Regions from separate parts of the Homo sapiens genome. Here region 1 is linked to region 2. The links come from fine-mapping of genetic effects on gene expression. A gene starts in region 2. The other region holds a variant in brackets. All regions are shown on one strand. Distances are between the middles of the regions.

Evidence for each region. PIP is the estimated chance that this variant, and not a neighbour inherited with it, causes the effect.
Region 1: its variant is fine-mapped to the expression of TMEM9 in minor salivary gland (GTEx, PIP above 0.99).

The regions. Positions count from the first base shown.
Region 1 is chr1:200,686,090-200,691,471 of GRCh38, reverse strand. It overlaps DDX59-AS1 (DDX59 antisense RNA 1), which reads right to left. Exons shown (of 3, transcript NR_110787.1): 2 at 1,042-1,163. Among named protein-coding and RNA genes, the nearest start is that of DDX59, 19 kb to the right of the region's middle. The variant G/C (reference allele first, on the strand shown) is at 2,342.
Region 2 is chr1:201,152,463-201,157,844 of GRCh38, reverse strand. It overlaps TMEM9 (transmembrane protein 9), which reads left to right and starts at 3,371. Exons shown (of 5, transcript NM_001288565.2): 1 at 3,371-3,987. The coding sequence starts at 3,922. RefSeq lists a silencer at 3,295-3,574 and an enhancer at 3,985-4,134.

The DNA.
Region 1 (5,382 bases), 470 kb after region 2:
ACTAAATACTGTTTTTTTTTTAGTGACAAGGTGAAAAATTAAAATTAAGAAAATATACAAATTGATACTTGCCTATTTATAGAAAGCAAATTAGGTTAAGATGTATCAGCCATATTCATAGCAAAATTTTAATTGACTCCAAAAATGTAACATCTTCACATTTCTCAAAATCTAATTCAAATCAGAAAATATTTGCAATGCTTTTTTGAAATGTTGTTTTGGGAATAATTAAAATGGCACAGTTATTTAAAACTGTGACCTTCCAGAAAAACAGGCTATCCAGGTTTACAGTGCAATCTTTTGCATGACTTAACCTTATAAAAAGTATGGAAACTCTAAGTGTAGGGATAAGAATGTTTAAGAGGGAGAATATTGGGGCCAGGAGCTCCCTTTGGTTCTATTCTTTTCCAAAAAAATCTGCAAATGGCACCTGCTAATGCTTTCTCTAGTGTGAGGGCCATCAATTACCCTAAGCTGGAAAATAAATTTCTATCATTTTGTTGGTAGCTTGCTAGATTATTAAATCTTGTAAGTAATTCAAATATTTTTGTATCAGGTACTGCCAAGGTGCTGGTGATACAAAGGTAAAAAAGTCAGAGTGTTTACCTTCAGGGATTTTACAGTAGAGTGAGTAAGGCGGCCCAGGAAACAGGCAGGAAACCCTAGTGAAAAGCTCTGATATAGCCCCAGTGTGAAATTTTTCTTCCAAAATAATTATTACATTATAACACTGAGTGAAAGCCTAATCTTGCATTTGCTTATAAGGACAAACACACACCCCCAGTGCACTCTCCTCCCACCCCCATCACTGTCCTTTTGCTTAAATATAATCTCCAAGGGATGCAAGCACAACTACATCCTTGGCTCTTATAAACTTGGGACATTGCTGGGCGCGGTGGCTCACGCCTGTAATCCCAGCACCTTGGGAGGCCGAGGCGGGTGGATCACCTGAGGTCAGATGTTCAAGACCAGCCTGGTCAATGTGGTGAAACCCTGTCTCTAATAAAAACACAAAAATTAGCTGGGCGTGGTGGTGCATACCTGTAATCCCAGCTACTTGGGAGGCTGAGGCAGGAGAATTGCTTGTACCTGGGAGGTCGAGGTTGCAGTGAGCTGAGATTGTGCCACTGCACTCCAGCCTGGGTGACAGAGTGAGATTCCGTCTAAAAAAAAAAAGTAAATAAAAATAATAATAATAAACTTGGGCCATTACCGTACATACCTAACACTTCTGACAGTAGGTTTCAGCCCAGCTATGGGTCTGCCTGCCTCACCAAAGAAAGAAGAGCCTTCAGTTCTCCACCTTATTATTCAGGGGTAGGTCATAATCCATCAATTAATACTGAAAGGATTTAAACATATACATCTGCGGTCATGTTTTTTTGTTTGTTTGTTTGTTTGTTTGTTTTGAGACGGAGTCTCGCTCTGTTGCCCAGGCTGGAGTGCAGTGGCGCGATCTCGGGTCACCGCAAGCTCCACCTCCCAGGTTCACACCATTCTCCTGCCTCAGCCTCCCGAGTAGCTGGGACTACAGGCGCCCGCCACCGCGCCTGGCTAATTTTTTTTAAATTTTAGTAGAGACGGGGTTTCACCATGTTAGCCAGGATGGTCTCAATCTCCAGACCTTGTGATCCTCCCGCCTCGGCCTCCCAAAGTGCTGGGATTACAGGCGTGAGCCACCGCGCCAGGCCTCGGTCATGGTTTTCAAACATTTTTACTCCAGATCCTGTGTTTAAATGAAATCACCCCTCGGTATAAAACTGAAAGCTGCTACCCTCATTCCTGATTTCCGAGCATCTCTGCAGAATTCCTGCTGTTTTTCAGAAAGCTGACTTCAAGAATAAACATTAAAACAAAACGAAAAACCTTTAACTTGAATATTTCTTGCAAATGCTTATGTTCATCGTTTCTTTTTTTTTTTTTTTTTTTTGAGACGAAGTCTCACTCAGCTTCCCAGGCTAGAGTATGCAGTGATGCGATCTTGGCTCACTGCAACCTCCGCCTCCCAGGTTCAAGCGATTCTCTTGCCTCAGCCTCCTGAGTAGCTGGGATTACAGGTGCACACCACCACACCCAGCTAATTTTTGTATTTTTAGTAGAGATGGGGCTTCACCACGTTGGCCAGGATGGTCTCGATTTCTTGACCTCGTGATCTGCCCGCCTCAGCCTCCCAAAGTGCTGGGATTACAGGTGTGCACCACTGCGCCTGGCCTATGTTCATCCTTTCTAAGGACACATAGTCTTCTTACTTCATGTGATAATAATGATAATATTTTATATTTTATAAAGCTCTTAACTTTTGGCTGGGATCAGTGGCTCATGCCTGTAATCCCAGCACTTT[G/C]GGAGGCCGAGGTGGGTAGATCACTTGAGGTCAGGAGTTCAAGACCAGCCTGACCAACATGGTGAAATCCTGTCTCTACAAAAAAAAAACAACAAAAAAAAAAACAAAAAAAACCACCAGAAAAATTAGCCAAGTGTGGTGGCATGCACCTATAGTCCCAGCTACTTGGGAGGCTGAGATAGAGAATCGCTTGAACATGGGAGGTGGAGGTTGCAGTGAGCTGAGATTATGCCACTACACTCCAGCCTGGGCAACAGAGCGAGACTCTATCTCACACACACAAAAAAAGCTCTTAACTTTTTCAAGTACTTTTCCATCAGTTATTTCAGATTTTGTGGGCTATGTCTCCCACAATTTAATGTAGCCATTTTAAATTTCATGGTGTATATCTAAGAGGAAAATTTGATATTATAACATGTTTATGGATTTTTCCCACTGTTTGAGTAGTATTGCCTTTCAACTAAGTAGACCTCTTTTAAGCAACCATGATCGCTCATACTTAAGTCCAGTTATCATCTGACACTGAATAATCCACCTACCTGCAATAATCGATTAATCAACACATCAAAATATGCTATAATAAACAGAAAATCCCTAATTTCGACAATGCTTTCATATAATTTGTAGGCTATATTTTAACAAGTCATTTTAATTCTCACAGCACATTATTACACTGTTAAATTGAAATTTAATTTTTTTGCAAGCTGCATTCATTGTTGTTAATATTTATAACTGTTAAGGGATTATAACCAAATGATATCTGGTCCTGGGATAAGGAAAGAGCAAGAATGCAATCTGTTAAATTGGATTAAAGTATTAAGCTCAATTTCTGAAAGCACACTGAATGTATTCCCATAAAAATTAAGATTTTGAAGTGCAGAAGTTTCTTATGATGCAGCAAACAATGAGAAGTCAAAGATGAAAAGGCATTCAGCCTGAAATGAATCCTGCATAAAATGAAGAAAATAGAAACACTCACAGGTTTCATTATTTTAAGGGAAAAAAAACCTTCTATTTTACAGTAGAGAACAATAAGATGTGGGAAATGGAATGGGAGAATGGAGCAGTTTTCTTCTAGGGACATGTATTTAAGAATGGTTTTGGCCGGGCCTGGTGGCTCAAACCTGTAATCCCAACACTTTGGGAGGCCAAGGCAGGCGGATCACCTGAGCTCAGGAGTTTGAGACAAGCCCGGGCAAATGGCAGAAATTAGCCGGGCGTGATGGTGGGTGCCTGTTGTCCCAGCTACTCAGGAGGCTGAGACAGAATTGCTGGAGCCTGGCAGGTGGAGGTTGCAGTGAGCCAAAATCACGCCACTGCACTCCAGCCTGGGTGACAGAGAGAGACCTTGTCTCAAAAAAAAAAAAATGCTCTCAAACCCCTGAAACGCTCTACTAAATTCTGTTGCCTTGTTGAGATAATCCACTAAAACCAATAACTGTTCCTTTTTTCTTACAAGTAAAAACACTTTCTTATTTATTTATTTATTTATTTATTTATTTATTTTGAGACAGAGTCTCACTCTGTCACCCAGGCTGGAGTGCAATGGCGCAATCTAAGCTCACTGCAACCTACGCCTCCCAGGTTCAAGTGATTCTCCCACCTCAACCTCCCAAGTAGCTGGGACTACAGGCATGCACCACCACACCTGGTTAATTTTTGTATTTTTAGTAGAGACAGGGTTTCACTATGTTGACCAGGCTAGTCTCAAACTCCTGACCTTGTGATCTGCCTGCTTCGGCTTCCCAAAGTGCTGGGATTACAGGTATGAGCCACTGCGCCCAGCGATACTTTTTTATTGTAGGAGATATTTATGAAGAAGAAGAAAAAGAAATTACCATAAGCCCACCATCAGAGATAACTACTATTAACACTTTTAACAGCTTTACTGAGATTCACATCCCATAAAATTCACCCATTGAAAGTGCACAACTCAATTTTTTAAGTGTATTTAGAGTTGTACCATCATCAGCACCTAGTTTTAGAATAATTCATCACCCCAAAAAGAAACCTATTAGCATCACTCCTCATTTCCCTAACACACATTTCCCCCTACTCAGTCCTAAGCAACTACTAATCTATTTTTTGTCTCTAGAGATTTGCCTATTCCGGATATTTCATATAAATAGGATCACAGTATGTGGCCTTTTGCAACTGATTTATTTCACTTGGCATAATGTTTTCAAGATTCCTCCATGTTGTAGCAGGTATCTGTACTTAATTTTTTTAAATTGCCGAATAGCATTCCATTGTATGTACATAACATAATTTGTTTATCCATTTATTATGGATATTGGGTTGTTTCCACTTTCTGACTGTCATGAATAATGCTGCTATAAATATTCATGTACAAGTTTTTGTTTGAATACTTGTGTTTAATTCTCTTAGAATCTAGGAGACTGAAATTTCTGGGTCATATGGTATCCCTACGTTTAATATTTTGAGGAACTGCTAAATTATTCTCCAAAATGGCTGTACCACTTTACAGTCCCATCATCAATGTATAAAGGTTCCAATTTCTCCACATCCTGACAACCCTTTATATTGTCTGCCAACTATATATATATTGCTATCCTAGTAAGTGTGAAGTGCTATCTCATTGTGGTTTTGATTTGCATTTCTCTAATTACCAATGATGTTAAGCATCTTTTCATGTATTGGTTATCTGCATATTTTCTATGGAAAAGGGTCTATTCAGATCCTCTGTCCTTTTAAAAATTTGTTTTTTTTTTAAAGTATTAAGACTTCATTATAAATTCTGGTTACAAGTCTCTTATCAGATATATATTAATTACAAATCATTTATTCCATTCTATGAATTGTCTTTTATTTTCATGATAGTATCACTTGCAGCACAAAAGTTTTTAACTTGATGAAGTCTACTTTATCTATTTTTTTCTTTTGTCTCTTACGCTTTTGGTGCTGTATCTTAGAAGGTTTTGTCTGACTCAAGGTCATGAAAATTGTGCCTGTATTTTCTTCTACAGATTTTCTAACTTTAGCTCTGACATTAGAGATTAGAGTCTGATCCATTTGATTTA
Region 2 (5,382 bases):
CTCACTGCCCTCAAAGCCCCCTCTCCACCATTCTGGGCTCCCCTGGCCCTTGGTCTAGGTTTCCCAAGTGCCTCTGCAGCCTTCCCCCAGCACAGCTCTTACCACCCTGAATTGTCATTGCTTGTTGATTTGTGGTTTTCTTGCAATAAACTTCAAGTTCTGTGGGAACAGGGACAGGGTTTGTCTTGTTTACTGAGATATCCCCAGCACCTAGCACAGTGCTCAAAAAATTTTTGAAGGGAAAAAGCATTTCTGATACGGGAGATAGAAATTATTTAGGCAGATAGCAAGGACAAAAAAGTCCTTGGCAGAACTTCCCTTCTAATAAGAAGCAGCCCTAGAAATCATTTCTTTTCTAACACAGAGCAGCCTCAAAGATTGGGCTGCAAACATATATAAGGAAGCTGGAAGCTTGCACGGAGGAATGCTGGCAGCTGCACTCATAGAAAAGGGCTACCGGGGGGCCAGGCATGTTCACCATGGGACTCCACCTTCCCTTTTTTGTTAGCACATGTACAGTAAGAAAGAACTGGGCAACATGGAGAAGCTCAGGCAGAGAAACCACCTGCATAATAAAGATTGGGCTGGGAGCTGCCAGAGATTTGTGCCCTATGCAGATGGCACACCTGGTGCTAACTTTTTTTGAGATGCCCTGTATAGATGAGATACTGCCTCCCCACTAGCTCATCTATAAAACCCCCTGCATTTCACCTTAAATTGGCAACTCATTTTTCCAGGACCCCTCTCTGTAGCAGAGAGCTATTGTCTTTCTTTCACCTATTAAATTTCCACTCTTAACCTCACTCTTTGTGTGTCTACCTCCTTGATCTTCATGGCCAGGAGACAACAAACCTCAAGTGTCACCACAGACAACAAGGCTGCTTCACTTCTACAACACATCACTTTCTATGTTACATTCTGACCATGTGATTGGTCTGCTATTAGGTTGTGCATTACTTGAAAGCAGAGTTGCATGTGATTTGTCTGTTGTATCCCTGGGGTACCTAGCATCTGTGAGCCCTGGAGTTTGGCTCACAGATAGTGCTTGGCACATGTTTATGGAATTAAATTTAATGAATAGGTTCAGACTCACTTCACTGGCATGGCTCATAAACACAGGGCACATGGAGGATGTATGGGAATGAGGTGCCCTGGGTCAGGTAGGACTATTTGGGAAAAGCTTCTGCAAGGCAAATGCTTGGGCAAAGATTTGAATAAGATGAAAGATAACGACTGGCAGTGCTGGGGGTGATAATGTCCTATGGAGGACTGCAATGAGCAAAGTCAGATATAGGGACAGCCGGTGGGGGGAGTAACCAGTGATGAGATGGGGTGGGGAAGTGCAGAAATGGTAACCACTTGGCTTGGTTGCCAAGTGGAGGGGTCTGAATTGGATGCAACAGGGTGCTTGCTACCAGGGATTGAGCAATGAGCGATGTGCTGAAAACAGAATTGGAGGAAGACAGGATGGACCTAGGAGCACACAGGAAGGGAGTGCATTTCAGGGAGCAGAATGCTAGCCGAGGAAAGATACAGGCAGGGTGATGATAGCTACCTCCTGGGGACACCTGGATAGACAAGATGTGGAAATATGAGAGAGGAGTCAAAGATAGTTTGATGCCACAATCTAGGACCTGCAGAAATGCAGAATGACAGTGGAAGGCCTCCCTTCTGTTTGATGAGGAAGATGGTGAGCTCAGCATTGGGTATCTTTAGTGTTGTGTGTCAGAGGGTCATCCATTGGAGGTGACAGACTCAGCCCCATGCTTTTGTCCCCATGAAAGTCCCACCTTCATATGGAACGTATATGGGGGGAAGAAGTGTCTTTTTCCAGTACTTGAACTATCCCTTCTGCCCCCACGAGGTAGGCATTCTGTCTCTGCCTGAGCTTGCTCACCAAAGCAGCCATTCTGACCTCCACAATGAGCTAACATTGCCATTTATAGAGCCTCCCTCTTTGTGTCAGATGCTGTTCTAGGTGCTTTGCATATGTAAACTCATTATATCCCTACAACCACCTTGAAAATTTGGTAATATTAATCCCATTTTATGGGCATGGAAACCGAGACTTCTGAAAGGATTCCAAAGACTTCCAAAGATCCAAAGGCGGTGTCCTAAAGGAAACCACCCAAATTCACACAACTAGGAAGGGAGGAACCAGGATTCCTGCCCTGGTCACTCTAGCTCCAAAGCCCCTGACCTTTGCATCACACTGCAGGCCTCCTGCCCCTGCCCCCTGCCAACTAGATTTAATTTAATTCTATAGAATTCAGTTTAGCAAACACTTCCTGAGCACCTACCAAACACAGGTCACTCTGCCAGGTGGCAAGGATATAAAGAGGAATAAGACATAAGCATAGGAGAGAGGAACACAAACTCAGTGGCCTCCAGATAAGTGCCCACCTCAGTTCACAGGGCCTGCGAGGGGCTTGATTCCACCTGGACCCAGCCCCTATGCTAATCCAGCCACCAACCTCAAGTTTGGGCCATATTGATACCCCTCCCACCCACCCCTAAGGAATCCCAACATATCAAAGCTGAAGGGGATCTTAGAATCCAACCGAATCATTTTACAGATAAGGGAAGTAAGGGAAGCTGAGGCCCAGAGAAGGGAGGTATCTTTTCCAGGCTAACACAGCTGCTTAGGGGGAGCGCCAGGGCCAAAGCCCCGGTGTCCTCACTCCGGGTCTGGTGCCCTGAATTCATATGACTCCCCTTTCCTTCACAGCTGGCAAGAAGTTCACATCTGCCACATAGCAGCCAGGGACCCTCACCCCTGCATCCTGGCCATGCACACTTTGCCCCATTTTGCCAGGCCCAGCACCAGCATGGGGTAGGGGGATCAGGCTGAGGACGCTGTTGTGCACACTCTTCACAGGCCCAGCCCACACCACCCATCGCCAACCCTAGATTTCTCCTTCTCAGAGGTGTGTGTAGGGGTAGAGACGTTGCCGCGCAGAAAGTCTTCTGCAGCAAAGACGTGGATCCCTAAATAACATTTCCAGATTTTGAATGAGGACAAAGCCCTTCAATCTCGTATCGTTTTTGTTGACGTTACTAGCTTACAGTGTATAAAGCGCTTTCTTTCTAAAACAGCAAGATGAAACAAGCTGAGTTTTATAATACAAGGAAGGGAGAAGCACCGCAGTGGGAGTTCTCAGGCCACACAAAGGCAAGACCCTTCCCCAGGAGTTTGGAAGGCTGACGTTCCCTTTTCTGGTTTGGTCGGGTTTGAGAAATGCCCGCCTCTCCCTTGCGCAAGAGTCTCCCCGCCCAGGTGAAGGCGGGTCTTGTTGCCATGGCGACAGCGCGGTCGGGTTAAGGGGCTGCTCTGGCAACCAATAGAAGCTAGGAGAGGGCGGGGACAACTGGGTCTTTTGCGGCTGCAGCGGGCTTGTAGGTTCGTGGACGCGGCATTGGGGGAGGGGACGGGGGTCGCGGGGCTATTGGGGGTCCCAGTCCGGCTTAAGACCTCTGGGCGTGGTGGGCACCGGCCTTCGCCGTCGGAGCAGGGGTCCCAGACTCGCACCCAAAAGTTCCCGTCGGGCCCGAGCGGGGAGGAGCTGCGGGGCGGGCAGAGGCGGAGATGGCGGAGGGCGGTGGGACGTGATGCGCGGGTCAGAGCCGGGCCTTGAGAAGGAACTGGAGGCCCCTGGCAGCGGTGTCCCCTCGAGGACCCCTCTGCCGGGCTCACCAGGTGGCTGGCGGAGAGCCGGAGAGTTGGGCGGGAGGGAAGCAGGGTTTGGCGACCAGGTTTAGCAGGCCTTGGAATCCTGGAGCCCAGCCCCCAACCCCATTCCCACTTGGCCGGATGGTTAAGGGCCTAGCGTGCTGGCTGCGGTGTGGCCACCTTCCCCTTCTCCGACTCCGTATCTCTTTTTCCAGGTGTCCGGCTTTGCTGGCCCAGCAAGCCTGATAAGCATGAAGCTCTTATCTTTGGTGGCTGTGGTCGGGTGTTTGCTGGTGCCCCCAGCTGAAGCCAACAAGGTGAGGGAGGTGAGCCTGCAGCACCTGGTCACGACCACAGTGCACGGCCACCCTGTCTACAGGGCTGACTCAGAGGTAGCCAGCTGCTCCTTAAGCCTGCCTCTCACTCACCTATGGGCCATACTTCTTTTAGTGGTCTTCCTTCAGGTTCAAGGCTGCTGGCCTCCCTAAGGATAGTGCGGGTGAGGAGTGAGGAAGGGTGGGGCACAGAGCACTGGCTCACTCTGATCAGACAGATCAGTGGTGGACTTCCAGCAAGGAAGTTTGGAGAAGTTATCTAAGTTCTCCATACCTTCCTTTGCTTTGGACCAAAGTATGTTTTGTTTCAGATATTTTTGGATTTGGGAGTATTTGCACATAAAAAATGAGCTATCTTGGGGAGGGGACCTAAGTCTAAACCTGAAGTTCGTTTATGTTTCATATATGCTGTATATACATAGCCCGAAGGTAATTTTATACAATATTTTCAATAATTGTGTGCATGAAACAAAGTTTATCTACACTGAACCATCAGAAAGCAAAGGCGTCACTATCTCAGGCACCCATGTGGATAGTCTGGTTGGTTGGCATCACCACCATTCCTGACAATGAATTTATATGCTACCGATAAATATTTTCTTACGTTACACATAAGTTCTTAACGGTAAAAAAATATGATGTACTATTAACACAGTGAAAATAAATGATGTGTTCAGGGTAACTAAGCACAGTAGCATCACCAGAATACCTGTATCAGCTGTTAGACACAGCAACATAAGGCTTTCTGTCTCCTGCTGTGATGCTGTGTTTTGATTAAAGGTTACTGTGCACAGTATTTTTTTAGGTGAGAAGTAGTATCTGAAGCAGTAGAGGGACCAGAAAGTGGGTCCTCTAGAGATGAGGAGGCATTCTGCCAGATGGCTTTTAAAAATGTTTTTGCCAGTCACCTGATTCATTAACAAGCTTTTGTCTTAGAAGTCTCTTTGATTTTATAGACTGACACGATTTCTTGTTCTGTTATGAATGCGCTCTGCTATAGTCTTTCAAGAAGCCCGTCACTCATTGTTACCATGTCTGTAGGTGCTTTTCTGCAATGTTAACATCATCTTTGTGGTCATGTCTGTGCTTAACAAGTTTTAGATTGGGAGCATTTCGAATTTTTGTTTTAGGGGTGCTAGTACTACCACCTGTAGTAGCAGTTGTATCTATTACTCTGCTTAGGGAGAATCAAATTACATGACAATGTAAAAATGCCCTGTAAGTGTAAAGTCCTATACAGTTTGAAGTTTCCATTATTAAGGGTGACCCACCTAAGTTCTGGGACTCCTGAGATAACTTCCATTCTTTATTGCTACATTCCTGTGGAGCTGTTTGGGTAGATCTATGGAACTAAAGATCATCCAGACTTTGAAGTAA